Linked DNA regions of Homo sapiens: regions 1, 3, 4, 5, 6 and 7 are each linked to region 2. Evidence: fine-mapped expression QTL. A gene starts in region 2. Each other region holds a variant in brackets. All regions are shown on one strand. Distances are from middle to middle.

Region 1 (4,066 bases), 110 kb before region 2:
GCTTACAGAGAGGAGCTACTCACTGTGGTTCTCCTCTGAGCTGTTCTAACACTTAATAAAGCTCCTCTTCCTCCTTGTCCACCCTTCACTTGTTCGCATACCTCATTCTTCCTGGATGCAGGACAAGAACTCAGGCGCCTCTTTGTCTTGTTCACTCTTCACTTGTCGCATACCTCATTCTTCCTGGACACAGGACAAGAACTAGGGCAAAGATGTCACCAGCCACAGAGGTTTCTGGCCAGAAAATTGACACTCCAAAGATCCCATAACAGAACTAGTCATTTTAATGCAAGGTCAACATCAATGTGGGTGTGGGGGGTCACAGAAAAGGCTTTTTCTTAAATGCCTGGCAGCTACTAAAAAACAGAACAAAACAACCATGTCAGGTGGGCTTTACGTCTACTCAGCATCCTAGTTAATGGAGTTAACATTGTATTTAATCCTTTTGGAAGTTCCCAATCTGCAAATTGTGACACTACAGGCCTTTTCTCCCTGTCTGACTCCTCACTTTCACTCTCCTATTTTAGGATTTAGGATCCTTTCTCTGCATGAATATAGTCTAAAGAAGGCTAGTGTAATAGAGCTCATTTTGGGCATGTTCAAATCTATTATCAAATCTCCCTAAATAGCCGATCCCCAAAGTAGGCTGTTTTATGGGCCAATATTAGTTCCCTATTCCCAGTACTGATTACATAAAACAGTTCTATTATATTTGCAAATAAGAGAAAGGGAGAAAACATCTACCAAGAGTTTCTTGGGGGAAGGTCATGCCTTAGAATTTGGAAATAGATGAGAACATTTTCTTTCTCTTTTTTCTTGTGGCTCCTTTTCCTTTTCAGAATTCTATTAAGAGACCACTATGAAAACCAGAAAAGCAGCTCATCAAACCTTGTCTTTCGTTTCCTCTGAGCTTTCCATGCCTCCTGAGATAGTGGAGGTTTCTTTCATCCTCCCAACCTGACTGTGGGAGTCAGCCAAGACTGACTGTGAGCCCTACCTATGGTGTTAGGATGACAGCACTCAGGGGCTGCTTGTTTTGGACAACCCACCATCAGATCTGCACATGTTTCCATTACTGCATGCACACACACACTCTCTCTCTCTCTCTCTGCAGCAAAACTAACAATAAACTCATCTTGATGTTTTTTCCCTGGCAATAGTTCTTTGACACAACTTTAGGTTTTCCACGGTCTCAGGTAGTCACCTTTTGATCTCATGACCTACAAATAAGTCTTCACTACTGGAGAAAATGGAAGAGTATTTCAAATTAACAGAGGTTTGAATCAACCCTGAATTGACAGCCACCCTACCACCACTAAACAAATTCTGCAAAACCCACCTCTTCATAATTGTACCACCAAAAGGGAAGAAAACAATTCCTTTGATATTAGAAATTCCTCAAGAGAGTGTTCATTTGTGCATTTGATAGTTTCATAATGTTGAGTTTGTGTGGCAGCTGCAAGGCATACTTTGTGTATAATTCTCTAATATTTGCATCGTCTTTCTGTCTGGAATTTTATTTGTTTTTGTGGTTTTTTGCCATATATATATATTACTTTAAGTTCTGGGATACATGTGCATGGAATTTTATTTGTAACTGTTCTTTGTTTTTTTT[A/TA]GACAAATCTAAAGATGCCACTCCCTATGTTGCTTTACCAAAGGCTTAAGAACAACAGCAGAAGGACTTGGCCTTCATCTCCCTGCTTCAGTCTCATTATAACTAAATGTACATTAGTGTGTTTTGGGGGTGAATTACTTCCTCACACCACTGCCTAAATATTTACAAAATCACTCATTTTAGCTCAGAGGTTATGCTTGGTTTTAAATACTTCAAATAGTTAAGTACAATTGAACCCTATTTATTTATTTATTTATTTTTGAGAGGGAGTCTTGCTCTGTCGCCCAGGCTGGAGTGCAGTGTCGCGATCTCCGCTCACTGCAAGCTCTGCCTCCCAGGTTCACGCCATTCTCCTGCCTCAGAACTCCCGAGTAGCTGGGACTATAGGTGCTTGTCACCACGCCCAGCTAATTATTTTGTATTTTTAGTAGAGACAGGGTTTCACCGTGTTAGCCAGGATGGTCTCTATCTCCTGACCTCGTGATCCGCCTGCTCGGCCTCCCAAAGTGCTGGGATTACAGGCATGAGCCACCGCTCCTGGCCCTATTTATTTATTTATTTAGAGACGGAGTCTTGCTCTGTCGCCCATGCTGGAGTGCAGTGGCGTGATCTCAGCTCACTATAACCTCTGACTCCCATGTTCAAGCAATTCTCCTGCCTTAGCCTCCCAAGTAGCTGGGATTACAGGTGCATGCCACCATGCCCAGCTAATTTTTGTATAATCCAGCTCCTCAGTGCATTAATTTGAATACTTCCAGCTCAGACTGAGTCCCAACATGAAGATACACAGAAGACAGTAGTATTCTCCCTTAAGAAGGGCTAACAGCCTCTGTATTTACTTTTCTCATTTCCACTCCTTAAAGCCCCCAAAGTTCAAAACTTATTTTCTAATCATGGAAGAGGCAATAAAAACACCACTGCCCTCCAGGTTCCCATCCAGGAGCTCCTGCATCACTGTGGGTACTGCTGCTACCTCATCCTCCCACTCCTCCCTGCTTCTCCTCTTCTTTCGCCTCTCAGAACTATCTTCCTGAAATGAATTCTTTTTTTTTTTTTTTTGAGACAGGGTCTCATTCTGTCACCTTGGCTGGAGTGCAGTGGCACGATCTCAGCTCACTGCAGCCTTCACTTCCTGGGCTAGAGCAATTCTTGTGCCTAAGCCTCCTGAATAGCTGGGACTACAGATGTGCACCACCATGCCCAGCTAATTTTTATATTTTTAGTAGAGACGTGGTTTTGCCTTGTTGGCCAGGCTGGTCTTGAATCTTGACCTCAAGTGATCCACCTGCCTCGGCCTCCCAAAGTGCTAGGATTACAGGCGTGAGCCACCACACCTGGCCAAAATTGAATTCTTGTTCCCCACTGAAGTGTCAAATAAATAAGAGCCAGGCTAGGTTGAAGGCACTGTAGTTCTTTAAGAAGTGTTTTACAGGTACCCTGTGATGTGTTAATATTCTGAATATTAATAGCTCTTAACCATGGGTCCTATGCTTGACACTGTACATGAGTTTTTATCTGTACAACAACCACAATTGTCATCATCCCCATTTTAAAAGAAATTAAACCAGAGTGGAATAACTACCTCATGCATAAACAAGCCACGTCCCGCCTTGATGAATGAAGTGATTCTACTCACTGGACTTAACAGGGTATGGCCCCTCTTCTCCTGACAAGTTGGAATAGAAAAGGGCAAGTAGACAGAGGCTGGACCTGTTATATCAGGAAACCCTCTTTGAGGGTGTAAGGACATTTGATCAAACTGTCTCTTAGGTCCCTTTATCCTGGAGGACATTTATCATTTTTGTCATTAACAGTGCCTGGCACAGTAATTAAGAGCTTGATTCATGTGAGCTATTGCTATTATATGCATTGTTACTCCCATGTTATTGATAAAAACTATTTCTAACTCAAGAGACTCTTATCCAAGTCATCAGCTAGGAGTGAAAACTGAAACTGGATAGGGAGTATGGTTAGGCATTCAATATAGTACATAACTCAAACAGAAAAGGTCTGAGCCAAGCCCCTGGGCCAGGAGCATCCAGATATATCCAGAAGATGGGGGAGTGCTGAGGGAGATCCACAGACTGTGTGTGTGATGAAAGGGACATTGGAGTATAGTAGGACATACAGTTGAAAGGGAAGAAATCAAAATGTGGCTATGCTGTACAAAACTGGCAGATATGTATTCTATATGCCACTGGGAACCAGGAGATATTTTGAACAAAGAATTTACATAAGCCAATTCATGTTTTGGGAAGGAAACACAAGCTTTAGGGGGTAGAAAAAGAGGTGGAAGCTAAAGTTAGGAGTCTGATTAGAGGGAAAAGTATTGAATAACTCAAGTTTTTAATTAATATATAATGGTTGTACATATATTTCTGGGGGTACATATATTTTGATACATGTATACAATGTATAATGATCAAATAAGGGTCATTGGGGTATCCATCA
Region 2 (4,066 bases):
GAACATTTAAAAATAAAATTTTTAAAAATATTTTTAAAAAACAAAATAAAGTATATAACATCACTTAAGAGCACACACACAATCTCTAGAAAAATTAAGGATTCATGAGTTGTCCACCCTCAAAAGACATCTCCATGCCCTTCCTCATGACAGACTCTCTTAGCGCTTTCCTTTCTTTCATTTTCATTTTATTTCTTATTTTATTATTTATTTTAAAGAAAAGGGGCCTCTGTCTGTTGCCCAGGCTGGAGTGCTGCCATGTGATTCTAGCTCACCACAGCCTCAAACTCCTGGGTTCAAGTGATCCTCCCATCTCAGCCTCCTGAGTAGCTGGGACTAGTGCAGGAGCCACTGCACCAGGCTCTTCAGGGTTTTTCTTCGTAATTGGGCTTATTGGGGTCAGTGGTAGGAAGGCTGTGTAGTTACAAGGCTCTGTGGAGCAGAAGTGGCCCCACATCCAGTAAGCTGCATATCCTTAAATCCCAAATCTCCATCCCAAGATTGGAGATTTTTGGCAGGTATGCCCTTACTGGTGCTCTTCCTATACCATCCCCGATTTTATTTATTTATTTATTTTTTGCTTGTCCTTATAGCACTCCATTTTGCCATGAGTACAGGTTTCTCTTGCATAGCCAAAGATATTCAGTCTCAGGCTAACAGATTCAGCCTCGTGTTTATTCTGTGTTGACTTTCTCAAAGGGTGCGTTAGATTTCTTGCAGAGCACATCTTACCACCCAGAATGCTCTGCATGCCCATCTCCAAGATCCCGATCCCAGCACTGAAGAGAGCATGGCAGCTCTGCTTTCAGTGCCTTTGCTGGAACTCTGAACAAGCAGCCCCCAGTCAATCATTTCTGCTTAATTAATAGCCCGCGCCCTGTGCATGCTGCCAAATATGGAGGGTCAGGCCATGAGATATTCTCCAAACTTTTACTCAAGGCGTCCTATGGTCACCGTGAGATCTCACCTCCCCTCTGAGCCCCCAAATCAGCTTTCCTCAGGGTAATAACTAGGCCCGAGTAGGGTGTAGTCAGCAAAGCTGCAAGCTGGGGCCCCATGTTGCATACATATATGCCTCCTATTGGCCCTTTTCTTCTCCACACTGCCCCTGTGTTTTGGCCACCCCACTCCACCCTCAACTGCCACCCCCACCCACGACCCATACCACACCCCTCACCCCCACCCACAACCCCTACCCCCACCACGCACCCTCCACCCACACCTCCCATCTCCACCCGCTACCCCCACCCCCACCATGTACCCCCACCGGCAACCCCCACCCCAACCCACAACCCCTACCCTCACCCGCAACCCCCACCCTCACTGTGCACCCCCCACCCTCCACCCACACCCCCATCCCCACCTGCACCCCACCCCACACTCACAACCCCCCACTCCCACCTGCAACACCCCCACTCCCCACCCGCACCCCCCAACTTCCCATCCCCCCACTCCTCTCCATTCCCTCTCTTGCTTGTGCGCATAAGCAAGTCCCACTCATTGCAACTGTAACCAATACCAAGCATGAGAACAGGAACTAGCTCCACCCTCTAACCCCCACTCCAGCTGCAGACGCCACGGAGTTTGTGCAGGGGCGCAGCGCTCCAGCCATGGCGCGTTCGCTCGTCCACGACACCGTGTTCTACTGCCTGAGTGTATACCAGGTAAAAATAAGCCCCACACCTCAGCTGGGGGCAGCATCAAGCGCAGAAGGCCATGTTGGCCAAGGAGCTCCAGGCCTCATGGGTAATATGAACCCTGAGGGCGGTGTGAACCACGAGAACGGCATGAACCGCGATGGCGGCATGATCCCCGAGGGCGGCGGTGGAAACCAGGAGCCTCGGCAGCAGCCGCAGCCCCCGCCGGAGGAGCCGGCCCAGGCGGCCATGGAGGGTCCGCAGCCCGAGAACATGCAGCCACGAACTCGGCGCACGAAGTTCACGCTGTTGCAGGTGGAGGAGCTGGAAAGTGTTTTCCGACACACTCAATACCCTGATGTGCCCACAAGGTAAGTGGCCTGCTCCAGGAGCCACGAGATCTCCAAGTTCGTTTCGAGGCATCTTTTTCTCTCCCTTGCCCCACCCAATCATGAGGAAAAAGCCACTGGGGGTCCTTGCCTGCCTTTGTGCTGGTGTGGAGGGGGATATTTACCTCCTGGGCATCAAGGTAAATGTTTTATTGCAATGTTTATGTGAATGAAACCTGGAAACTAGTCCGTGCCTCCCTTTTATAAAGATGTGGTAAAATACACGGAAATATGAAATTTACCGTCCAAACCACTTTTTAAGTATAGAGTTCAGTTGTGTTAAGTATGTTCACATTGTTGTGCAATAGATCTCTAGAATTCTTCTCATCTTGCCAAGCTAAGTCTCTATACCAGTTAAGCAACTCCCCTTTTCCCCCTTTCCCCAGCCCTTGGCAACCACCATTCTACTATTTTATGTCTCTATGATTTTGACTACTCTAGGTATCTCATGTAAGTAGAATCATACAGTATTTGCATTTTTGTCACTGACTTATTTCACTTAGCATAAGGTCTTCAAGGTTCATCCATATCGCAGCATATATTAGAATTTCCTTCCTTTTTAAGGCTAAATAATATTCCATTTTATAGATACAGGTGCACACCAACAGTACATGGGGGTTCCAGTTTCTCCACATCCTCACCAACACTTGTTATTTTCTGGGGTTTTTTACATAGCCATCCTAATGGGTGTGAGGTGATACTTCATTGTAGTTTCGATTTGCTTTTCCCTAATGATTAGTGATGTTGTGCATCCTTTCATGTGCTTAGTGGCCACTTGTATATCTTCTTTGGAGAAATATCTCTTTAAGTCCTTTACCCATTTTAAAATCTGAGTGGCTTTTTCTTTCTTTCTTTCTTTTTTTTTGGTTATTGGGTTGTAGGAGTTCTTTATACACTCTGGATATTAACCCCTTATCAGATGTGATTTGCAAATATTTCCTTCCATTCTATGAGTTGTCTTTTTACTCTGTTCATTGCATCTTTTGATATACAGAAGTTTTAAATTTTGATATAGTCCAAGTTATGTATTTTTTCTTTTATTACCTGTGATGATGGCCTGTTTTTGTTGTTGTTGTTGTTTTTGTTGAGTGGGGGATCTGTCACCCAAGCAATCCTCCCATCTCAGCCTCCTGAGTTGCTGGGATTATAGGAGTGAGCCACCACACCCAGCTGTGGTCTGTTTTTATAAATAAAATTTTATTGAAATTGGGGTAAGGAGAATGAGGTACTGTCATGCAACTACAGTGCTAGATCCTTCCTTTATTTAAAATTTTGATAATTTGTTCATCATAGTTTTTTTTTGTTTGTTTGGTTGGTTTTTTGTTTTTCTGGTTTTTTTGTTTTGTCTTGAGACAGAGTCTCTCTCTGTGGCCCAGGTTGGAGTGCAGCAGTGCGATTTCAGCTCTCTGCAACATTTGCTTCCTGGGTTCAAGCCATCCTCCCGTGTCAGCCCCCTGAGTAGCTGGGACTGCAGGCACAGGCCACCACACCTGGCTAATTTTTGTATTTTTTTTGTGTGTAGAGATAAGGTTTCGCCGTGTTGCCCAGGCTAGTCTCAAACTCCTGGGCTCAAGCAATTTGCCTGCCTCGGCCTCCCAAACTGCTGGGATTACAGGCCTGAGCCACAGTGCCTGGTCCTCATCACAGATTTTTGCATTAATTGTTATTTATTAAAATAGTGCATTAGGGCCAGGCACGGTGGCTCAGGCCTGTAATTCCAGCGCTTTTGGGAGGCCAAGGTGGGAAGGTTGCTTGAGTCCAGGAGTTCAAGAACAGCCTGGGCAACATGGCAAAACCCCGTCTCTAAATAAAACTTAAAAAATTAGCCATGTGGGTGTGGTGGTGTGTGCCTGTACTCCCAGCCACTTGGAAGGCTGAGGCAGGAGGATCGTTCGAGCCCAGGACATGCAGGCTGCAGTGAGCAGTGATCCTGCCACTGCACTCCAACATAGACGACAGTGAGACCCTGTCTCAAATAATAATAATAAAAATAATAATAATGCATTAAATTATTCATCTTGGCCGGGTGCGGTGGTTCAT
Region 3 (4,066 bases), 28 kb after region 2:
CCTGCCACCACGCCCGGCTAATTTTTTGTACCATTAGTAGAGACGGGGTTTCACCGTGTTAGCCAGGATGGTCTCAATCTCCTGACCTCGTGATCCGCCCCCTCGGCCTCCCAAAGTGCTAGGACCACAGGCGTGAGCCACCGCGCCCGGCCCAATGAAACTCTTAAACACATGGGAAATCACATTGTTTTCTTGTATAAGTAATACTGGATGTTCTCATTGTTTTCCCTACCTTTTATCTACTGCCTTTGTGAATATAATTCTTTGGGATCATAGTAGAAATCACATACTTACTTTATTATATTATCTGAGCACTCTGTAGATCAAGTATAATAATTGATCTCTCTGTGTTTTCTGAAAGTAAAGATAGTATCTGCCAACATACAAAACAACTGATAAGATTATGCAAACATAGCTTTGGGTTTATTCTACACAGAACTTAACTTTTCTTTTGCCCTTTGTCAAAAGTACAATAAAATGTGAAAGTTATAACAAAGTTCTCAACCAGCTCAGTTCAGTTCAGTAATTCTCAACAGGACAGTCAGCTATAGGCCACAAATTTCTGTGCCTGTATCCCTTAGAAAGAAAAGGAAGAACACATTCCAAAAGAATATTCCAGTGTATGTATGGAACAGGAATTAAAAGAAATTAAAGAGTGTGCAAGCAGAAACTCAGTTGTATGTAAGAAAACCCAATTCCCCCTAAGAAAGAGAAAGAGCTGAAGTCCTTTAAAATTAACTGCCTGTTTTTCTGTGGCTAGTGAGCCTTATCTCTCCCACTTTCCCAGGCATTGTGAAGACCCTGTCTCCTTAGCTGTGCAGCTGCAAGGTCACTAGACAGAAAAACTCAAGTTGCAAAACATGTTTTTCCTTGAAAAGTAAAAAATGATATAATGCATGTCTCAATTGCCTTTGTTTCTCACTTCTGTAGTATACTTTCCTCTGCACAGATCTCCCCCGACCCACGAAATGCTTAAAAGGTAACTTAACTCTGTTCAGGGCTCAGTCCTTTGGATGTTAATCCGACTGGACCAGTGCACCTAAATAATTAATAAATATCCTCCTGAGCCCCATTGGTCTCTCTGATTCCTTAAAAATCTCGTAACATTTCTGGGAACTCGCCTGGGATTGGAGACAACAGATTTACTGTCTCATTTGCCTGGGGGACTAGAGCCCCAGGGCTGGGGAGACCCAGCATCCAAGGCACGCCACAGGGGAGCTTCACCCAGACAGAGACTGGCTCTCCCCACATCCCAGCAGACTGCCCGGCAATGCAACAGAACCAGGAACAGGGCTGCAGGACGATGCCAGCACTTCAGGAACTGTAGTAAGGAGCAAGTGCCTAAGGCAGGGAAGCCTGTCCCATAAGGATGATCACCTCCCAGGGAATGACCACTAATCCAACCCAGAGCAGCTGGGGGTGGCAGGAGAGGCTTGCTAATTTGGATGAACCTCGTGTCCCCATTAACAAAGTGAAAGTGGTTTACTGGATCTGGAGACAGGAACTGGGAGTGTGTGGGTGTGTGTGAACCCACCCAGGACATGAGAGAGGCTCGTTTCGTCTGATGAGGAGTCCTGGGCAGGGGAGGTGTGTGAAAGTGTATGAAAGAGATGGTCTTGGGAGAGGCCAATGCGGGGAGTAACGTGAGGAGGCACAGATCCCTTAGGGCAGGCTGTGTACTCCAAGGTGAGCGTGGAAGAAATCAGACCTAGGATGCCGCATACGGCCAATGGGACCAGTTTCACAGCCACAGCAGGCTGTGACAGGGGAAGGCACATTCCTGGCTAAGCAGTGTCTGAAACTCCCATAAAAGGACCTGGTCTGGTGGATCTGAGAGTGAAAGTGAGAGGGAAAGTGCACTGCAAGGGAGGAAATGGGAGGAAAAGTGTCGAAGCCAACTCCTTTGGAGTGCGTGATAAAGAATTTTAAAAAAGGATTTAGAGGTGATTATGGGATGAAACTGGATGCTCAAAAGTTAAGGACATACTGTGAAATAGATTGGCCTGCTTTCAATGTGGGGTGGCCCTCTGAAGGTACAATAGACAGAAAATTAATTGGCCGTGTGTTTAACGTGGTCACCGGAGTTGGAAGACAACCAGGATACCCAGACCAGTTTCCCTATATAGACTCTTGGCTCAGTGTAGCACAAACTCACCCCAAGTGTCTACAGCCCTGTCTAAAGAGATATTATAAGGCATTAGTGGCTCAGGCAGCCCAACCAAAGGAAGAAAGAAAAACCAGATATAGGAACAGAGATGGCTCAATTTATAGCTGCTGCACTAGCAGAAAGTAACCCTGAATTTGCTAGAGGGCGTGGCCAAGGCAGAGGTCGAGGAAGGGGGCAGACAAGACCAGGAGAGGAAAGCCAATCTTGGTTGGACAGGAACCAATGTGCAAAGTGCAGGAAAATGGGCCACTGGAAAGATGAGTGACCCAAAAAGGAA[A/G]AGGATGGAAATGATGGTCAATGGTCTAACACCCAAGTGCGTTATTCGGTTGCTAGTCATGGTGCATCAAGGGCAGATCCTGATCTGATTGGCTTAGCAGGGGCCAAGAATTTTGAGGACTGAGACAGACCAGGCTCCATCTTTTTAGGCCCCGGGGAGCCTATGGTCTCTATGGAAATAGGGGGTCAATTAATGGATTTTTTTGGTCGATACTGGTACTGATTTCTCTGTGGTAACTCACCCAATTAGCCTCCCCACAAAGAACTGTGCTACTATTGTAGGGGCTACTGGGGCCAAAAAAAAGAGACCTTTTTGCAAATCCAGGAGATGTGTTATTGGGGGACAAGAAGTGCAGCATGAGTTTCCGTATATGCCAAATTGTCCAGTGCCCTTGCTGGGGAGAGACTTACTCCAGAAACTGCAGGCAGAAATTTTCTTTACGCCTAAAGGGAATATGACACTGGAGTTTGGAAAGTCCAAGGCAATGGTATGAACTCCAACTGTCCCAAGGGCTGAGGAATGGTGGCTGTGTGAACCGTGTGCCAGAAGGTCACCAGAACCGACCTACACAATATATGGGGGATGCTTTTCAAGGTACCAGGTGTATGGGCCGAGGATAATACCCTGGACTTGCTGCAAACAGACCCCCAGTGGTAGCAGAGCTTAACCCTCATGCTGCCCCGGTATGAGTCCGTCAATACCCAGTACCCAGGGAGGCAATTGATGGAATAACAAAAGCATCTGAATCGGCTTTATACACATGGGATTATAGTAAAATGCAAGTCCTCATGGAATACTCCTCTGTTACCCATGCACAAATCAAATGGGGAATACAGGCCAGTGCAGGATCTCCGGGTGGTAAACAAGGCCACTGTCGCTATCCATGCAACAGTACCCAACCCATACACAATGTTGGGACAGATTCCTGCTGATGCCACTTGGTTCACATGTCTGGACTTAAAGGATGCCTTCTTTTGTTTGAAGCTTGCTCCCCAAAGTCAGAGGGGGCAATCGCAATATACCTGGACAAGGCTGCCGTAAGGGTTTAAGAATGCTACCATTTTTGAGGAGGCCTTGGCTACAGATCTTGAGGCTTTTGCGCCACCTAGTGACAATTATGTGCTATTACAACACATTGATGATTTCCTATTTGCCGCCCCCACGAGGGAGGAATGACTCCAAGGAACAGAGAGGCTTCTTCACGTGCTGTGTGAAGCTGGTTATAAAGTGTCCAAGGACAAGGCAAAAGTCTGTTTTCAGGAGGTTGGATATCTAGGATTCATGGTATCCCAAGGCCAGCGCAGGCTTAAGTGCACGCAAGGAGGCTGTATGTGCACTGCCCACCCCAGTTACAAGGCCAGGGAATTTCTAGGCGTGGCAGGATTCTGCCGAATCTGTATTCCAAACTTCTCCCTTACAGCAAGGCCCTTGTATGAGGCTATAAAAGGAAAGGAAAGAGAGCCCCTCCTATGGCAAAAGAAACAGGAAAAGGCCTTCAAGGATATAAAGGAAGCTCTCATCCAGGCCCCGGCACTAGGGTTGCCAAATGTAAAAAAGCCCTTTTTTTGTATGTGGATGAATGTCAAGGAATGGCAGTTGGAGTCTTAACTCAGTTCTTGGGC
Region 4 (4,066 bases), 330 kb after region 2:
GTGGGATTGCACAGCAAAGGGGTCCCTGCCTTACAACCACACTAGGAGGTTCAGATGAAAGCAATTCCGGCTGGGCACAGTGGCTCACACCTGTGATCCCAGCACTTTGGGAGGCCGAGGCAGATGGATCACCTGAGGTCAGGAGTTCAAGACCAGCCTCGCCCACGTGGTGAAGCCTCGTCTCTACTAAAAGTACAAAAATTAGCCGGGCGTGGTGGCGCGCACCTGCAGTCCCAGCTACTCAGGAGGCTGAGGCAGGAGAATTGCTCAGACCCGGGAGGCAGAGGTTGCAGTGAGCTGAGATCACCCCACTGCACTCTAGCCTGGGCAACGGCAAGACTTGTCTCAAAAAAAAAAAAAAAGCAATTCCTAAGAGCATGGCGCTCACCAGAAATGTGAAGAGTGAGCTCCAGAATACCAAGGAAATTAGGAGCTTTAAAGGGATCTTTGGAACCTATCTCCTGAACCCCTAGACTGCAATTTTTTTTCTTTTTTCTTTTTCTTTTCTTTCTTTCTTTTTTTTTTTTTTTTTGAGACGGAGTCTTGCTCTGTCACCCAGGCTGGAGTGCAGTGGCGTGATCTGGGCTCACTGCAACCTCTGCCTCCCGGGTTCAAGCAATCCTCCTGCTTCAGCCTCCCAGTAGTTGGGATTACAGGTGCCTACCACCATGCCCGGCTCATTTTTGTATTTTTTTTTAGTAGAGATGGGGTTTCGCCATGCTGGTCAGGCTGGTCTCGAACTCCTGACCTCAGGTAATCCGCCTGCCTTGGCCTCCCAAAGTGCTGGGATTACAAGTGTGAGCCACTGTCCCCGGCCTGACTGCAAATATTTTTTCTTATTGCATCAGTGATGCCTTCATATTCAAAGAAAGTTGCCACTGTGAACAGCAGTTGGTAAATATTAACATACTTAAAAATGTTACTCAAGGCTGAGCGCAGTGGCTCGCCTGTAATCCCAGCACTTTGAGGGGCCTAGGCAGGTGGATCGCTTGAGCCCAGGTGTTTGAAACCAGCCTGCACAATATGGCAAAACAAGAAATTGGCCAGGGTGGAGTGCACCTGTAGTCCTAGCTATCTGGGAGGCTGAAGTGGGAGGATCACCTGAGCCTGGAAGATCGAGGCTACAGTGAGCTGTGATCATGCCACTGCACTCCAGCCTGGGTGACAAGAGTGAGACCCTGTCTCAAAAAACGATACTCAAGTCCAAAGGAGAGGGACTTGATAAAATTAACTGGCAGTCACAAGACAGGGACATTTCTAACCATTTCAGAGCATTAGAAAGCAGTCTTCTGCTTCAGAGTAGGTTGGGTGTTTGCTAACAGAGCCCAAGGAGGTTAAGTGACAAGGCCAAGATCTAATGGCATAGGCAGCTTTCTCTACAGACCTCGAATAGTTGGGATTACAGGCACCCAAGTATTGCACCTGTAATCCCAACTACTCGGAAGGTAGGATTAGGATTTGGAGAAAGGGAAAATGACATGGACATGGGGTTAGCCGTGTGTGAGGGGTTTATTTGGAGCCTGGGAGTTGAAAGCTGTGGGGTCTGGATCCAGTGGCCCCTCGCTATCTTGTACAATTGCCAGTACCTGTTTCCCCATATCTATGAAGGGAGTTGGGTTAGATCAGTGCATCTTGAAGGAAGGAAGGGGAACTTGCGATGTATTTTAAGATTTCAAAATGGTACTGAAATAGTAAAGAAGGGAAGCATTAGATGACAGGTTTTGAAAGACAGGAAGTCACCCTTGTGATGACACTGCCCATCCCTTGACCTACTGAGAGGCAGGCAGCAGATTGGTTGAGTTTGCTGCTGTCTGTGTATCACCAGACTATAGTCTGGATTCATTAAACACTGCTCCCGGGCCGGGCATGGTGGCTCATGCCTGTAATCCCAGCAGTTTGGGAGGCCGAGGCAGGTGGATCATTTGAGGTCAGGAGTTCGAGACCAACCTGACCAACATGGTGAAACCCTGTCTCTACTAAAAATACAAAAATTAGCCGGGCGTGGTGGCACATGCCTGTGGTCCCAGCTACTCGGGACACTGAGGCAGGAGAATCGCATGATCCTGAGAGATGGAGGCTGCAGTGAGCCGAGATCGTGCCATTGC[G/A]CTCCAGCCTGGGCCACAGAGTAAGACCCCATCTCAAAACTAAACAAAACAAAACCCTGCTCTCCACCACTCACCAGTTGTAAGCCCTCAGCGTCCTCATCTGCAAAATGGGGTCTCCCTCAGAAGGTTGTGAGGATGAAATTTAATAATGCACCAAAGCACTTGGTTCAGTTGCCTGACTAGGAAAAGGAGATGAGGAGTAGGGAGTGAGCAGGAAGAACGTTTTGGTGTCAGTCCCCAGCACAGATGCACCATATGTTGGCACAGGGAGAGGGACGTTGTGATGGGAGGCTGAGATAAAATCAGGCTGAGCTGCCATGGAGTTGGTGCTCAACATAAGCTGCTAAATTGATGCCAGTTCTCTTCCAACTCCAGGGTTTTAATTTGGAGGGACAGAGTAACCCCTCAAGGTCTTGCAGGCAAGCCTAAGGTTGAATCCCAGCTTCATCACTGAACCAACTGTGGGACCTTGCTCTCTTAGAAGACTTTTATATCCAGTCATACCTGACTACCTCAGGTTTGTAAGGATTGAATGATGTCTGTAAAGGATTAGTTCCAGGAGTGTATTTTCAAGGTAACTTCAGTCTATGCTCCCAGGTAAAAAGGTTTGTTTTTTTTTTGGGAAGGAGTCTCGCTCTGTCGCCAGGCTGGAGTGCAGTGGCGCAATGTCGGCTCACTGCAATCTCCGCCTCCCGAGTTCGAGTGATTCCTCTGCCTCAGCCTCCCGAGTAGCTGAGACTACAGGCACGCACCACCACGCCTGGCTAATTTTTTTGTATTTTAGTAGAGACGGGGTTTCACCATGTTGGCCAGGATGGTCTTGGACTCCTGACCTCGCGATCTGCCTGTCTCAGCCTCCCAAAGTGCTGTGATTACAGGCGTGAGCCACTGTGCAGAGCCTTGTTTGTTTTTTTTTGTTTTTTGTTTTTTGGATTTTTTTTTGAGACAGAGTTTTGCTCTTGGAGTTCAATGGCGCAATCTCGGCTTACTGCAACCTCCACCTCGCAGATTCAAGCGATTCTCCTGCCTCAGCCTCCCAAGTAGCTGGGATTACAGACCTGCACTACCATGCCCAGCTAATTGTATTTTTAGTAGAGACAGGGTTTCACCATGTTGGCCAGGCTGGTCTCGAACTCCTGACCTCAGGTGATCCACCAGCCTCGGCCTCCCAAAGTGCTGGAATTACAGGCGTGAGCCACCATGCCTGGCCGTAAAAAGTTTTTAAAAAGAGAAAAGGATCAATTCCACTAGATATTCTTCCATTTTACAGGTAAGAAAAAGGTAAGCTGGACGCAGTGGCTCATGCCTGTAATCCCAGCACTTTGGGTGGCCGAGGCGGGTGGATTGCTTGAGCTCAAAAGTTCGAGACCAGCCTGGGCAACATGGTGAAACCCCGTCTCTACCTCAAATACATAAACTTAGCTGGGCGTGATGGTGCACACCTGTGGTCCCAGCTACTTGGGGGGCTGAGGTGGGGAGGATCGCTTGAACCCGCGAGGTAGAGGTTGCAGTGAGCCCAGCTTGCACCACTGCACTCCAGCCTGGATGACAGAGTGAGACCCTGTCTCAAAAACAAAACAAAACAGAAAGTACCACCTCCCATTCCCTTGTCCTGGAATGTTCTCCCTCTTCATTTGGTTAACATCCATTCATTCTTCAGGTCTCAACCTGCTTGTCACTTCCACAGGGAGACCTTCCCTGACTTCCCCCTCTCTTCTTCCAGTCCAGTTAGGTTCTTCTGCTTACTACCTCTTAAATTACCCTGTAGTTTTCCTTCACAATTGTAACTATAAGGTTACATGTGTGGTCAATTAATTGATGTCTGCCTCCTTTGCTAGACTGTGAGCTCCACAAGGATAGATCCAGAAGGGTATGTCTTGCTCGCTACACTTTGCTTTCAACAAACTGCATCTGGCATGAAGGAGGTACAATAAATGCATTTGTTGGCTGGGCGCAGTGGC
Region 5 (4,066 bases), 170 kb after region 2:
CCCCTGGCTAACATCCTAGTCCCCTAGGGACCCGGTGGGCAGCAGAGCACTCAAATTCTCCATCCATGTCTAGCACTGAGCTCTGCTTCATTCAATGTTCCTCTCTCTATCTTTTGGGTGCGCATGAGCACACACGATCTTTAGCTCGAATATATCCTAGAATGGTCACATCACTTATTTTATCCTGTGCTTTTGGTCCTCAGAACACACCTGCAAGTTCCAGCCATATTTCTACCTGTTGGTAGATACAGCTCCTCCTAGTGGAGTCAAATTAGAAACAGTTCTCCATTTATGACAGTCTTTCCAATGTGAGATTCAAATAGGCTAACCCAAGAGTGCGAAATTTTCCATATTTAGGGGCCTAATATCATCCAATTTCTTCCTGTAGAAGTAGTAGCAATTCATTATCAGAGAAGAAATGCAGATAAGTGAGGTGTTAGAGGAACTGACAAAGCCAGCACGCCAGTTAAGTTATCAGGGATCACAGGTCTGTATTGACTAAGAAGTATTCTAAAAGAAAATTCTTTTTAGAAATTATGTAGTTCGGGTTTTGATCCTGCAAATTCTTTCAAAAGAGGTTAGTGATTAAAAACATTGTTTTAATCTCGCAGTCTCTAAAACAATTGTTGGCATAATTGGAAAGCATCCTCAAATTCAAATGGACACAAACTACAAGAGTCCCCCTAACACCCACTCCTTAAATTCCATTTCCACAACCCAGATCCCTGCCTCAGTCCGCTGGGTGTTAGCCATGCACCTGCCCAGACAGCTGCAGAGTCTCAGACTTTGAAGAGGAGTAGTGAATGGAAGCTGAATACCTCCATATCCCATAACACACAAATGGTTTAATTCCTGTAGAGAATGGATCAGGTCAGGTGAGGTGGCTCACGCCTGTGATCCCAGCACTTTGGGAGGCCGAGGTGGGCGGATCACTTGAGCTCAGGGGTTCCAGACCCACCTGGGCAACATGGCGAAACCTTGTCTCTACCAAAAATGTCAAAACTTAGCCAGGCATGGTGGTATGCGCCTGTTGTCCCCGCTACTCGGGAGGCTGAGGTGGGAAGATCGCTTGAACCCAGGAGGCGGAGGTTGCAGTGAGCCAAGATAGTGCCACTGCACTTTAGCCTGGGTGACAGAGTGAGACCCCCATCTCAAAAAAAAAAAATTTAAAGAAGAATAGGCCAGGCGCGGTGGCTCATGCCTGTAATCCCAGCACTTTGGGAGGGTGAGGCAGGCGGATCATGAGGTCAGGAGTTCAAGACCAGCCTGGCCAACACAGTGAAATCCTGTCTCTACTAAAAATACAAAAATTAGCTGGGCATGGTGGCGCATGCCTGAAGTCCCAGCTACTTGGGAGGCTGAGGCAGGAGAATCACTTGAACCTGGGAGGCAGAGGTTGCCCAGGCTGGAGTGCAGTGGCAGGACCCAAACTCTGCAAGCCTGATCCCACTGGCTGTCTGCACCTCCCTGTGTGCTCTAGCTCCCCCTCACTGCCAACTCATGAAACACAGGCTGCTCCCAGGATACCTGGCAAGAAGAGCACCATGCCATTCAGATGTGCAGGAGTAGGGGTTTTCTCTTTCCAACTAAAGTACATGTCCACCAGCCATGGGGCAGGTAGACCAATCACTGTTGCAGAGTTGGTTTTATAGGCAACTGATGTGAAGGTGTACTGCCTGTTGTCGCAAAAGTTAGGCAGTAGGTTTTCCATTGAAAACTTTCTTATTAGAAATTCTCCCCAATCTCCATCCCAAATCACAGAATTTCTCTTACTCGATTAAGTTTTTGGACCTGGCCCCATGACAAATTAGTTATACATAGAAGATATCCAATAGTGTGGTCCACTCTTTCCATTTAACATTATTTCATACGTCTTTCCCTTAAATTCCAAAAAAAGGAGATTTCTGATAATCAATTGGCATTAATTTTCATGATCTGATAAATTACTTCTTAGGAAAATCCCAGAGGCCATCATGCTACTGGCAGGCTGGACTTGGAATTTCTTCAGCAAACCTATGTACCTTCAAAAATCCAAATTGAGGGCTGTGCATGGAGGCTCACGCCTGTGATCCCAGTACTTTAGGAAGCGGAGGCCGGCAGATCATTGGAGGTCAGGAGTTTGAGACCAGCCTGGCTTACAGGGTAAAACCCAGTCTCTACCAAAAATACAAAAATTACCTGGGCATGGTGGTGGGCACCTGTAATCCCAGCTACTTGGGAGGCTGAGGCATGAGGACTGCTTGAACCCAGGAGGCAGAGGT[T/C]GCAGTGAGCCAAGATCCTGCCACTGCACTCCAGCCTGGGCAACAGAGCAAGACTCTGTCTCAAAAAAAAAAGTCGAAATCAGTAGAATTAATGTTGGAATGCCCTTTGATTTAAAAACAGTAGAGGCCTAGGTGCAGTGGTTCAAGCCTGTAATGACAGCACATTGAGATGCCGAGGTGTGAGGATCACTTGAGTCCATGAGTTCAAGACCAGCTTGGGCAACATGGCAAAACCCCATGTCTACAAAAAATTTAAAAATTAGCGAACCATGGCACATGCCAGCTACTCAGGAGGCTGAGGTGGGAGGATCCCTTGAACTCAGGAGGTGGAGGTTGCAGTGAGCCAAGATCACACCACTGCACTCCAGTCTGGGTGAGGGAGCCAGACACTGTTTCACAAAAGAAAAAAGAAAAGAAAAACAGTATAAAATGAATAGAAATGCTGGGCGTGGTGGCTCACGCCTGTAATCCCAGCACTTTGAGAGGCTGAGGCGGGCGGATCACAAGGTCAAGAGATCAAGACCATCCTGGCCAACATGGTGAAACTCTGTCTCTACTAAAACTACAAAAATTAGCTGGGCATGGTGGCACGCCCCTGTAATCCCAGCTACTCAGGAGGCTGAGGCAGGAAAATAGCTTGAACCCTAGAGGCAGAGATTGCAGTGAGCCAAGATCACGCCACTGCACTCCAGCCTGCTTACAGAGCGAGACTCCATGTAAAAAAAAAAAAAAAAAAAAAAAAAGAATAGGAATACTGATCCTTAACTCTATATTGCTGGGCTGGCATACAATGAGACTAGTTTAAGGAGCTGGACAAAGAGGGGATTACAAATTCCTTTTGCTGGATAGATAATAGAGGCTGGGTAGGGTATGTGGGAGGAAGCAGAAGGATGAAGAGAAATAGGTTAAAGGGTACAAACATACAGTAAGATAGAAGAAATAAATTCAATGGTTTTTGTTGTTGTTTTAAGACAGTGTCTCACTCTGTCGCCCATGGAGTGCAGTGGATCAATCACGGCTCACTGCAACTTCGATTTCCGGGCTCAAGTAAGTGTTCCTCCCACCTCAGTCTCCTGAGTAGCTGGCATGCACCACCACACTCGCCAAATTTTTAAATTTTTTGTAGAGACAGGGTCTCCCTATGTTTCCCAGGCTGGTCTCCAACTCCTGGGCTCAAGTGATTGGCCCGCCTCGGCCTCCCAAATTTCTGGAGTTACAGGTGTAAGTCACCATGCCCAGCCCCAAATTCAATGTTTGATATTGACAGCATGGTAGAGTGAGAGTACACTATTTTTTTTTGGAAACACAGTCTCACTCTGTTGCCCAGGCTGGAGTGCAGTGGTGCAATCTCACTCTCGGCTCACTGCAACCTCAGCCTCCCGGGTTCAAGCGATTCTCGTGCCTCAGCCACCCTAGTAGCTGAGATTACAGGCACGTGCCACCAGGCCCAGCTAATTTTTGTATTTTTAGTGGAGACAGGGTTTCGCCATGTTGGCCAGGCTGGTCTCAAACTCCTGACCTCAAGTGATCCACCCGCCTCTGCCTCCCAAAGTGCTGGGATTACAGACGTGAGCCACCATACCAGGCCGAGAGTACACTTAACAAAAATGTATTGTGCTCAGATAATGGACACCTTAAATACCCTGACGTCATCACTACACATTATATACATGTAACAAAATTTCACATGTATCCCATAGATTTGTACAAATTTAAAAAATAATAAAAAATTAGCTGTGCATGATGGCACATGTCTGTAATCCCAGCTACTCAGGAGGCTGAGGCAGGAGAATCACTTGAACCTG
Region 6 (4,066 bases), 210 kb after region 2:
TTTCTAACAGGGCTGACTTATCTGTAAGGCATAGTAAGCTCAATACCTAGGGCCCACAAAAAAAATGTGTTCATTTCTTTTAAAATTAGAAGAAAAAGGCCGGGCACAGTGGCTCACGCCTGTAATCCCAGCACTTTGGGAGGCCGAGGAGGGCGGATCACCTGAGGTCGGGAGTTCGAGACCAGCCTGACCAACGTGGAGTAATCCAGTCTCTACTAAAAATACAAAATTAGCCCAGCGTGGTGGTGCATGCCTGTAATCCCAGCTACTTGGGAGGCTGAGGCAGGAGAATCGTTTGAACCCGGGAGGCGGAGATTGTGGTGAGACGAGATTGCGCCATTGCACACCAGCCTGGGCAACAAAAGCAAAACTCTGCCTCAAAAAAAAGAAGAAGAATATATGAATTTTAGGGTCATGATTATATTCATCTTTATACCAGTGCTGTCTTGAATTTTTTCATCTTTTGAAGGAGAAAGGGGGATACAAAGGGAAGAGTGCCTAGGGCCCACAGAAGTCAAAATGCATCCCTGATTCCTGGCACAGGGCCTTAGATTTCACAGGTATTCAACAAATTCAATTCAACTGAACTTCCTTGGGCTGGCTCTCAGGGCACCAGAAGCTTCTGAATCAAAGAAGAGCCTGAATTAAGATGAAGGTTCACAGAAGGAAGGAATTGGGAGAGTCTAACAAGTCCCAGTAATGTGGAGAGGGAGTACAGGAGACATCAAAAAGATTTCAGGCCCTCCTTTAAAAAAAATGTAGGCTGGCCTTTTGCCTCAGCTTATTTCAAACTTGTACCCAATTGGCTGTTTCAGTCCAGAGAAGAGCACTGGACTCGAGATTCCTTGAGATCAGGAGCTGTGTATTCTTTCATGTATCATTATTCCTTTTTTCTGAGACAGGGTCTTACTCTGTCACCTAGGCTGGAGTGCAGTGGCACGATCATGGCTCATTGTAGCCTCAACCTTCCCGGGCTTAAGTGACCCTCCCGCCTCAGCCTCCCAAGTAGCTGAGACTACATACAGGCATGCACCACCACACCTGGCTAATTTTTATATTTTTTGTAGAGATGACAGTCTCCCTATATTGCCCAGGCTGGTCTCAAACTCCTAGGCTCAAGTGATCCACTGGCCTCGGCCTCCCAAAGTCATTATTCCTTCCTTTTTTTTTTTTTGAGACGGAGTCCCTCTCTGTCTTCCAGGCTGGAGTGCAGTGACGTGATCTCGGCACACTGCAACCTCCGCCTCCTGGGTTCAAGCGATTCTCCTTCCTCAGCCTCCTGAGTAGCTGGGATTACAGGTGCTCACCACCACGCCCAGCTAATTTTTGTATTTTTAGTAGAGATCCAGGCTGGTCTTGAACTCCTGACCTCAGGTAATCCACATGCCTCGGCCTCCCAAAGTGCTGGGATTATAGGCACGAGCCACCACGCCTGGCCCCAAAATCATTACTCCTTTTAATGAAGGGGCCCAACAGTCAACCCCTTATGGCTCATTGGAGCATGCCTCTTTTTTTTTTTTTTTATGTTTTTGAGATGAAGTCTTGCTCCGTCACCCAGGCTTGAGTACAGTGGCGTTTTCTCGGCTCACTGCAACCTCCGCCTCCCGAGTTCAAGTGATTCTTCTGCCTCAGCCTCCCGAGTAGCTGGCATTACAGGTGTGCACCACCACATTTGGCTAATTTTTGTATTTTTAGTAGAGATGGAGTTTCTGTGCTCGCTTCGGCAGCACATATAGTAGAGACGGAGTTTCACCATGTTGGCCAGGCTGGTCTCAAACTCCTGGCCACAGGTGATCCACCTGCCTCGGCCTTCCAAAGTGTTGGGATTACAGGCATGAGCCAC[C/T]GCACCCAGCCAGAGCATGCCTTTTTTTTCAACTGTTCTATATTACTCAATATACTTTTCTAGCCCTAATGTTTAATCTGTCACACAATCACAGACTTTATAACATTGAATAGGTCACTAGAGATAATCTAATGCAGCCCTTCACTTTGCAGATGAGGATACCAGGGCCTAGAAGTAGGTAGGGACAGTCTAACACAATAAACTGGGACTGGTACCCAGGACTCCTGAGCAGCCCGCTCAGTGCTTTCTCCACCCCACTAGAAGCCTCAGTTCTAAGAGTTTCTTCTTCTCAGCTTGGCTCTTAGTGGATTTTTCCTCCCTTTTGTGAATGAAGGCAGCCTTACACATGACATTAAATTTAACTATTTTCATCAGGCGAATCTCCTCCCATTTTTATCCGTGTGCAGGCAGCAGACTTTTATGTATCAGCAGTGAGTGTGTTTTGTGATTTTTACATGATACTGCTTCATATACTCACTTCCAGGAAACAGTATCTCACTGTACTACTTGATCATGGATGGCTTAGCCAACTACATACTACTGGACACTCACAATCAACAGACACATAGAAGTATATGCACAAGGCAAAAAACAATGAAAAAGTATATGCACAAAACTGTTATCCATGGTTAAGTGACCTTTGGGGTAATAGAAACGGGTATTTTGGGTAATTTCATTTTCTAATTTGTATCTTTTTGCTCACTGGGCATTTTTTATAGTGATGTCTTTTTTTTATTATAAAAGTAATTTTAACTGTCTGAGGTGATGGGCATTCTCTGATTTTTCTTTTATAAGGAACCCATTTGTATATTCCTGTTGCCAGACTGTGTTCCTGAAGAGAATGAACCAACTTTGCCATTGGCAATGTGTAAGTGTTCCCTCCCCACAACTATACCATCCTATACCATCCTTCTTTTTTTTTTTTTTTTTTGACAGAGTCTCACTCTGTTGCCCAGGCTGGAGTGCAGTGGTGCGATCTCAGCTCACTGCAACCTCCGCCTCCCAGGTTCAAGTGATTCTCCTGCCTCAGCCTCCCAAGCAGCTGGGATTACAGGCACACACTACCACACCCAGTTAATTTTTTTGTATTTTTGTAGAGACAGGGTTTCACCATGTTGACCAGGCTGTTCTCAAACTCCAGACCTCAAGTGATCCGCCCGCCTCGCCCTCCCAAAGTGCTGGGATTACAGGCGTGAGCCACCGCGCCCAGCCTGTACCAGCCTTCTGATACCAGGTTTAATTATTCGTATTCACATTGTAGTACCTTAAAATCATTTGAATTTGTATTTTTAAATGATAATAAAAGTCTGCATTATTTTTGTCATCCAAAAGTACTTTTCCTGGGTCAGTAGAAGCTGATGAGAAAAAACAAATAAGAAAAAAAAATACTTTTCCTACTGTGGTGGAAAGAATATATCAGATAGAACTGACTGGGTGCAGTGGCTCACACCGGGTGCAGTGGCCACTGCCAGTGGCTGGCAGTAATCCCAGCACTTTAGGAGGCCGAGGCAGGAGGACCACTTGAGGCCAGGAGTTCAAGACCAGCCTGAGCAACAAAGTGAGACCTCATCTCTACAAAAAAATAAAAAATTTACTCGGCCATGGTGCTGTGTACCCATAGTCCTAGCTACTCAGGAGGCTGAGGCAGGAGGATCACTTGAGCCCAGGAGTTTGAGGCTGCAGTGAGCCGAGATTGCGCCACTGCACTCCAGCTTGGGCGACAGAGCAAGACTCTGTCTCAATAAATAAATAAATAAATAAATATTTTTTAAAAAGAATGTATCAGGCCAGGCACAGTGGCTCACGCTTGTAATCCCAGCACTTTGGGAGGCTGAGGTGGGCAGATCACTTGAGGTCAGGAGTTTGAGACCAGACTGGCCAACATGGTGAAACCCCATCTCTACTAAAAATGCAAAAATTAGCCAGGCATGGTAGCATGCACCTGTAGTCCCATCTACTCGGGAGCCTGAGGCAGGAGAATCCCTTGAACCCAGGAGGCAGAGGTTGCAGTGAGCCAAGATGGTGCCACTGCACTGCAGCCCTGGGTGACAGAGCAATGCCCTGTCCCACAAAAAAAAAAAAAAAATCAGACAGACATATGATCATAACTTTGTTTTGCTGCTCAATCAGAGAGAGGTTGGGCAATTTGTGCAAAGTTCTCATCTTTTAAATGGGTACACTGATATACCCACACACAGTTTTGTTGTGAGGATTAAACGAGAT
Region 7 (4,066 bases), 150 kb before region 2:
TGTCGCTCAGGCTGGAGTGCAATGGCACAATCTTGGCTCACTGCAACCTCCACCTCCTGGGGTCAAGCGATTCTCCTGCCTCAGCCTCCCGAGTAGCTGGGATTACAGGTGCGTGCCACCATGCCCGGCTATTTTTTTTTTTTTTTTTGTATCTTTTGTAGAGACAGGGTTTCACCATGTTGGCCAGGCTGGTCTCAAACTCCTGACCTCGTGATTCACCCGCCTCGGCCTCCCAAAGTGCTGGGATTACAGGCATGAGCCACCGTGCCTGGCCCACCCTTACTTTTTAATAACAGCTACTATTCACTGAGTACTTACTATGTACTAAGCATTGTGCTAAGTGCTTTACATATATCATCATTCAATCATTTACCTCTTTAAGAGAAGTACTCTTGCAATTGCCATTTTTAAGATAAGATGACTGAATCATGGAGAGATTAAGTGACTTCACCAAAGTCACAGAGGTGGTAAGTGAAAGAGTAAGGATTTATATCTAGGGCTGACTGATTCCAGAGATTGGGTTGGGGGATTTTTGAAGTTGTGAATCTAAGCGGAGCACAGCTCTTTCCCCAGTTAATTTTGGGATATTTATACTTTCTACTGGATATTTATACTTTCTACTGGACTCATGGTCCTCAGAAAGGGTCTCTTTACTCTTGATCCCCACTGAAAAAGGATTCCCTTCCTTCATGCATTCCTCAGAGGGGAATTCAGGGGCTGCTTGGACACTTTTTATATGTCTCCCACTTCTTTCCCTAGGCTCAAGATGTCTTTAGTATTTCCTGTTTGAAGACTTTATAATTGTATAGCCTAAGTCTTGAGGGGGTAAGATTTTAAGTGATTTCTCTCTAGAACTTAAATGGTTTCATTTTAGTATTTTAGTTTAGCTTTCTTTTGCTCACCAAGTTTCATTCCCTTATAGTTTCATAGGCGAAAATACCATTCTTTACACAAGAAAGTCAGCCAGGCGCGGTGGCTCACGCCTGTAATCCCAGCATTTTGGGAGGCCAAGGCGGGCGATCACCTGAGGTCGGGAGTTCGAGACCAGCCTGACCAACACGGAGAAACCCCATCTCTACTAAAAATACAAAATTAGCTAGGCATGGTGGTGCATGCCTGTAATCACAGCTACTCAGGAGGCTGAGGCAGGAGAATCACTTGAACCCAGGAGGTGGAGGTTGTGGTGAGCCGAGATCACGCCATTGCACTCCAGCCTGGGCAACAAGAGAGAAGCGCTGTATAAAAAAAAAAAAAAAAGGAAAGTCAAGAGGGCAGGAAACGTCTGCTTATATTCCCAGATAAATAAAAAGGAGTCAGCAAATGCACTCCAGATCTGACAATAAAACCACCTGAAGCACAGACCCACCCCCAAAAGGCCAGAGCTCCCTCATGCTCTTCTGATTGTAAAATGACCTAAGTTACAGCCAGAAAATGGACCTTTCTAGACTTTCTTCTGAATGACTTCCCATTTTGGTTATTTCCAAGTAGGACTATTTCTGTGACTTTGGGTTTGGTGATTTCAACTTCCTTTTGACCCTGAGGCTAATAGGAGGATGAGGAAAAAAGACTTATAATGTTTTGTTTTAACCCCTCAAAGTCATACCCTTATTGGGTAGCTGTCCAGTGAGGAAGCTTGGGAAACACTTCTTGTGGTCAGACATGAGCAAGGATTTGGGTCTGATCAGC[T/CT]GGCCCTGAGGAAGTTTTGAGTGCTGAGCTTAGAGAAACTGGATTCTTTCAAACACTGGGCTCCAGGGTGTCCTTGCTTCTCAGGAACTCCTCATACTCCAAAGCAGGAAGGATATAAGCTGAGACTACCTTTGCCTCCTCGCTCATCTGTCCAACACTCATTTCTCTTGTCCTTTGCACTATTTCCCCACCACCCCTTCAGCTTTAGCCAAGTAGTCCAAAATCTGTAGGGTACAAAGCATCAGTTTTCACTTCTGCTGGGAAATTAAACCCAGCTATTTATAAACCCCTCAAGGTTCCCAGCAATATTTCCCAGTCTGGCATACTGGGCCAGTACCCCTACTTTACTCTAACCATGGAATGGTCCCTTTCCTATCCATTTGGTGACCAGCCAAGTTTAAGCTTAAAACGAAAGTCTCAACCTATGCAATTCAAAAGTGCCTCTATTTTTCCTCTTTATTTAATCACGAGGGTACACTAGGTTTCACCCTAGCCACTAAAAGTTACTCATTATAAATTGGGCCCATTTATTAAAAGGATTGCTTTGATCCTAGGAGGGTACAGTTTATGGCACAGGTTGCTGAGAGCCTTAGAAGGCTGTTGTTGCTATCACTCAACTTTTTCTTCCCCCCGCCACCCGCCCGCCACCCCGCTGTCAAGTCTTTCCTTTCGTCCCCTCCTTTCCCTTGTTCCTGACTCATCCTTTTTTTTTTCCTCTTTCTTTTACCCACTCTTCTCTCCATCTCCCTAGCCTTTGCTTCCAGGGGCAGAACAGAGAGGGAATGCACAATACCGACAGATGCTGGGATTTTACCCTTGGGACACAGTGTCTTTAACTAGTAATTATCACCAGCCAGTTCCTGGGCTCTTTGTGAAGTCACTGTCCCACAAGGCTCCTGGAGAGAAGCATGCCCTGACGGAAATGCGCATTGATCTTGAAGGGTGTGGGTCAGCCATCAGGCAGGCAGGAGGCAGGCTAAGGTGGAAGAGGAAAGCCATCTGTGTCCCTGAAAGGGTGGTGCTCCTCTTCAAGCACCATCAGCCTGTTGGCCACCCCAGCCTCTAAGAAGCCGCTCAGGAAGCTGGAGCTGACTAGGCCCAGCAGTAGGCTATTTAGATGCTCTTCGTGCTTGGTGGTGCACAAGGATTCAAAGTTCTGTTCTCCTGAGCTGCCCACAGCATTATTAAAGTCACACTCTCAGGCAGGAACCAGAATACACCAGGCCAACTCCCTGGCTGCGACAAAGCCAGATCTTTCCCAAGGTGCCTGCCTGTTGCTAGGAAACTATGCACTGGTACTATGGGCCTTTTCCCCCGCTAAACCCCAAGGGTGTGTGGACTGCAGCCAGTTAGCTCCCTAGCTCTGCCAGGAACCCTTCAGCTTTATCCTTAAGACTCCCAGCATCCTCAAAGGGAAGTGAGAATCATGACCCCCTCCCCCCATACTTCTCAAACACAAAACTAAGAAGTGAAAACCCAAGGGCCGTTGTACCACCCCCTTTTATTATCAAAGTGTACAACTGCCACCCACAGCAGCTGCTGCCCACAGAAGCCTTTTAATGCCTCTCAGGACAGAACTGCCTTTAGCTTCACTTCAGGAAACTTGCCTCTCCCTTCTGTGGCTGGGAACACCTAAAACTGGCCTGCTGCCTCTCATGTCATCTCTGTAGTGGGATTTAGAGAGGCAGTGAGTGCCATATGCCCAGGCACAGAGATTCTTTGCCCTGGTGGGTCTTTGTTCCCCTCTCTGGTTAAGAGGAGAGAGTTCTTAGTTGAGGAAAGCAACAGAACAGGAGGGAGGGAGAGGAGGAGGAAGGGAGAGTTTGAAGGGTGCAAGATGGAAAATCAGGAAATCACTATACCGATGTTTTTAACAAAGGGTATCTTCTTGGAGGGAGGAGGAAAATTGAGTTTTTAAGAAGGAATCTAGATTGTCTTGAGTCCACTGCCTCAGGTTGTTTTGCCTTTAAGGGCTCTCCAGGTTCTACGACCCTGCCATTTCTTTGGAGTGAAATAATGGATGGGATTTGGGAGGCAGGGGATGATGGCAGCTAGCATCTCTTCTCAGTCTTAACATTATGTGGTAAGGAAGATTTTTCTGTGTCTCAAGCAAGGCTTAGAAATCTGGACATAGGTTTTATTTATTTATTTATTTATTTTCGAGACGGAGTCTCACTCTGTCACCCAAGCTGGAGTGCAGTGGCGTGATCTGAGCTCACTGGAACCTCTGCCTCCCAGGTTCAAGCGATTCTCGTGACTCAGCCTCCTGAGTAGCCGGGATTACGGGCACCCACCACCACTCCCAGCTAATTTTTGTATTTTTAGTAGAGATGGGGTTTCGCCATGTTGGCCAGGCTGGTCTCAAACTCCTGACCTCAGG

What was found.
Region 1: its variant is fine-mapped to the expression of RHOXF1 in whole blood (TOPMed, PIP above 0.99).
Region 3: its variant is fine-mapped to the expression of RHOXF1 in whole blood (TOPMed, PIP above 0.99).
Region 4: its variant is fine-mapped to the expression of RHOXF1 in transverse colon (GTEx, PIP 0.98).
Region 5: its variant is fine-mapped to the expression of RHOXF1 in whole blood (TOPMed, PIP above 0.99). The same link has a PIP of 0.9 or more in adrenal gland, amygdala, anterior cingulate cortex, atrial appendage, caudate and cerebellar hemisphere.
Region 6: its variant is fine-mapped to the expression of RHOXF1 in sun-exposed skin (GTEx, PIP above 0.99).
Region 7: its variant is fine-mapped to the expression of RHOXF1 in gastroesophageal junction (GTEx, PIP above 0.99). The same link has a PIP of 0.9 or more in esophagus mucosa, esophagus muscle, ileum, prostate and thyroid.

What each region holds. Positions count from the first base shown.
Region 1 is chrX:120,219,197-120,223,262 of GRCh38, reverse strand. No RefSeq gene overlaps it. Among named protein-coding and RNA genes, the nearest start is that of ZBTB33, 30 kb to the left of the region's middle. The variant A/TA (reference allele first, on the strand shown) is at 1,616.
Region 2 is chrX:120,113,407-120,117,472 of GRCh38, reverse strand. RHOXF1 (Rhox homeobox family member 1) reads left to right here and starts at 1,560. Exons shown (of 3, transcript NM_139282.3): 1 at 1,560-2,008. The coding sequence starts at 1,611. All of the region lies in intron 1 of RHOXF1-AS1 (RHOXF1 antisense RNA 1), which reads right to left.
Region 3 is chrX:120,085,256-120,089,321 of GRCh38, reverse strand. The region is part of intron 1 of RHOXF1-AS1 (RHOXF1 antisense RNA 1); the gene reads right to left. Among named protein-coding and RNA genes, the nearest start is that of RHOXF2B, 9.6 kb to the right of the region's middle. The variant A/G (reference allele first, on the strand shown) is at 2,445.
Region 4 is chrX:119,780,922-119,784,987 of GRCh38, reverse strand. No RefSeq gene overlaps it. Among named protein-coding and RNA genes, the nearest start is that of SNORA69, 4.5 kb to the left of the region's middle. The variant G/A (reference allele first, on the strand shown) is at 2,106.
Region 5 is chrX:119,944,742-119,948,807 of GRCh38, reverse strand. No RefSeq gene overlaps it. Among named protein-coding and RNA genes, the nearest start is that of NKAP, 3.0 kb to the right of the region's middle. The variant T/C (reference allele first, on the strand shown) is at 2,262.
Region 6 is chrX:119,906,993-119,911,058 of GRCh38, reverse strand. The region is part of intron 4 of AKAP14 (A-kinase anchoring protein 14); the gene reads right to left. Among named protein-coding and RNA genes, the nearest start is that of AKAP14, 13 kb to the right of the region's middle. The variant C/T (reference allele first, on the strand shown) is at 1,844.
Region 7 is chrX:120,262,071-120,266,136 of GRCh38, reverse strand. All of the region lies in intron 8 of TMEM255A (transmembrane protein 255A), which reads left to right. Among named protein-coding and RNA genes, the nearest start is that of ZBTB33, 13 kb to the right of the region's middle. The variant T/CT (reference allele first, on the strand shown) is at 1,687.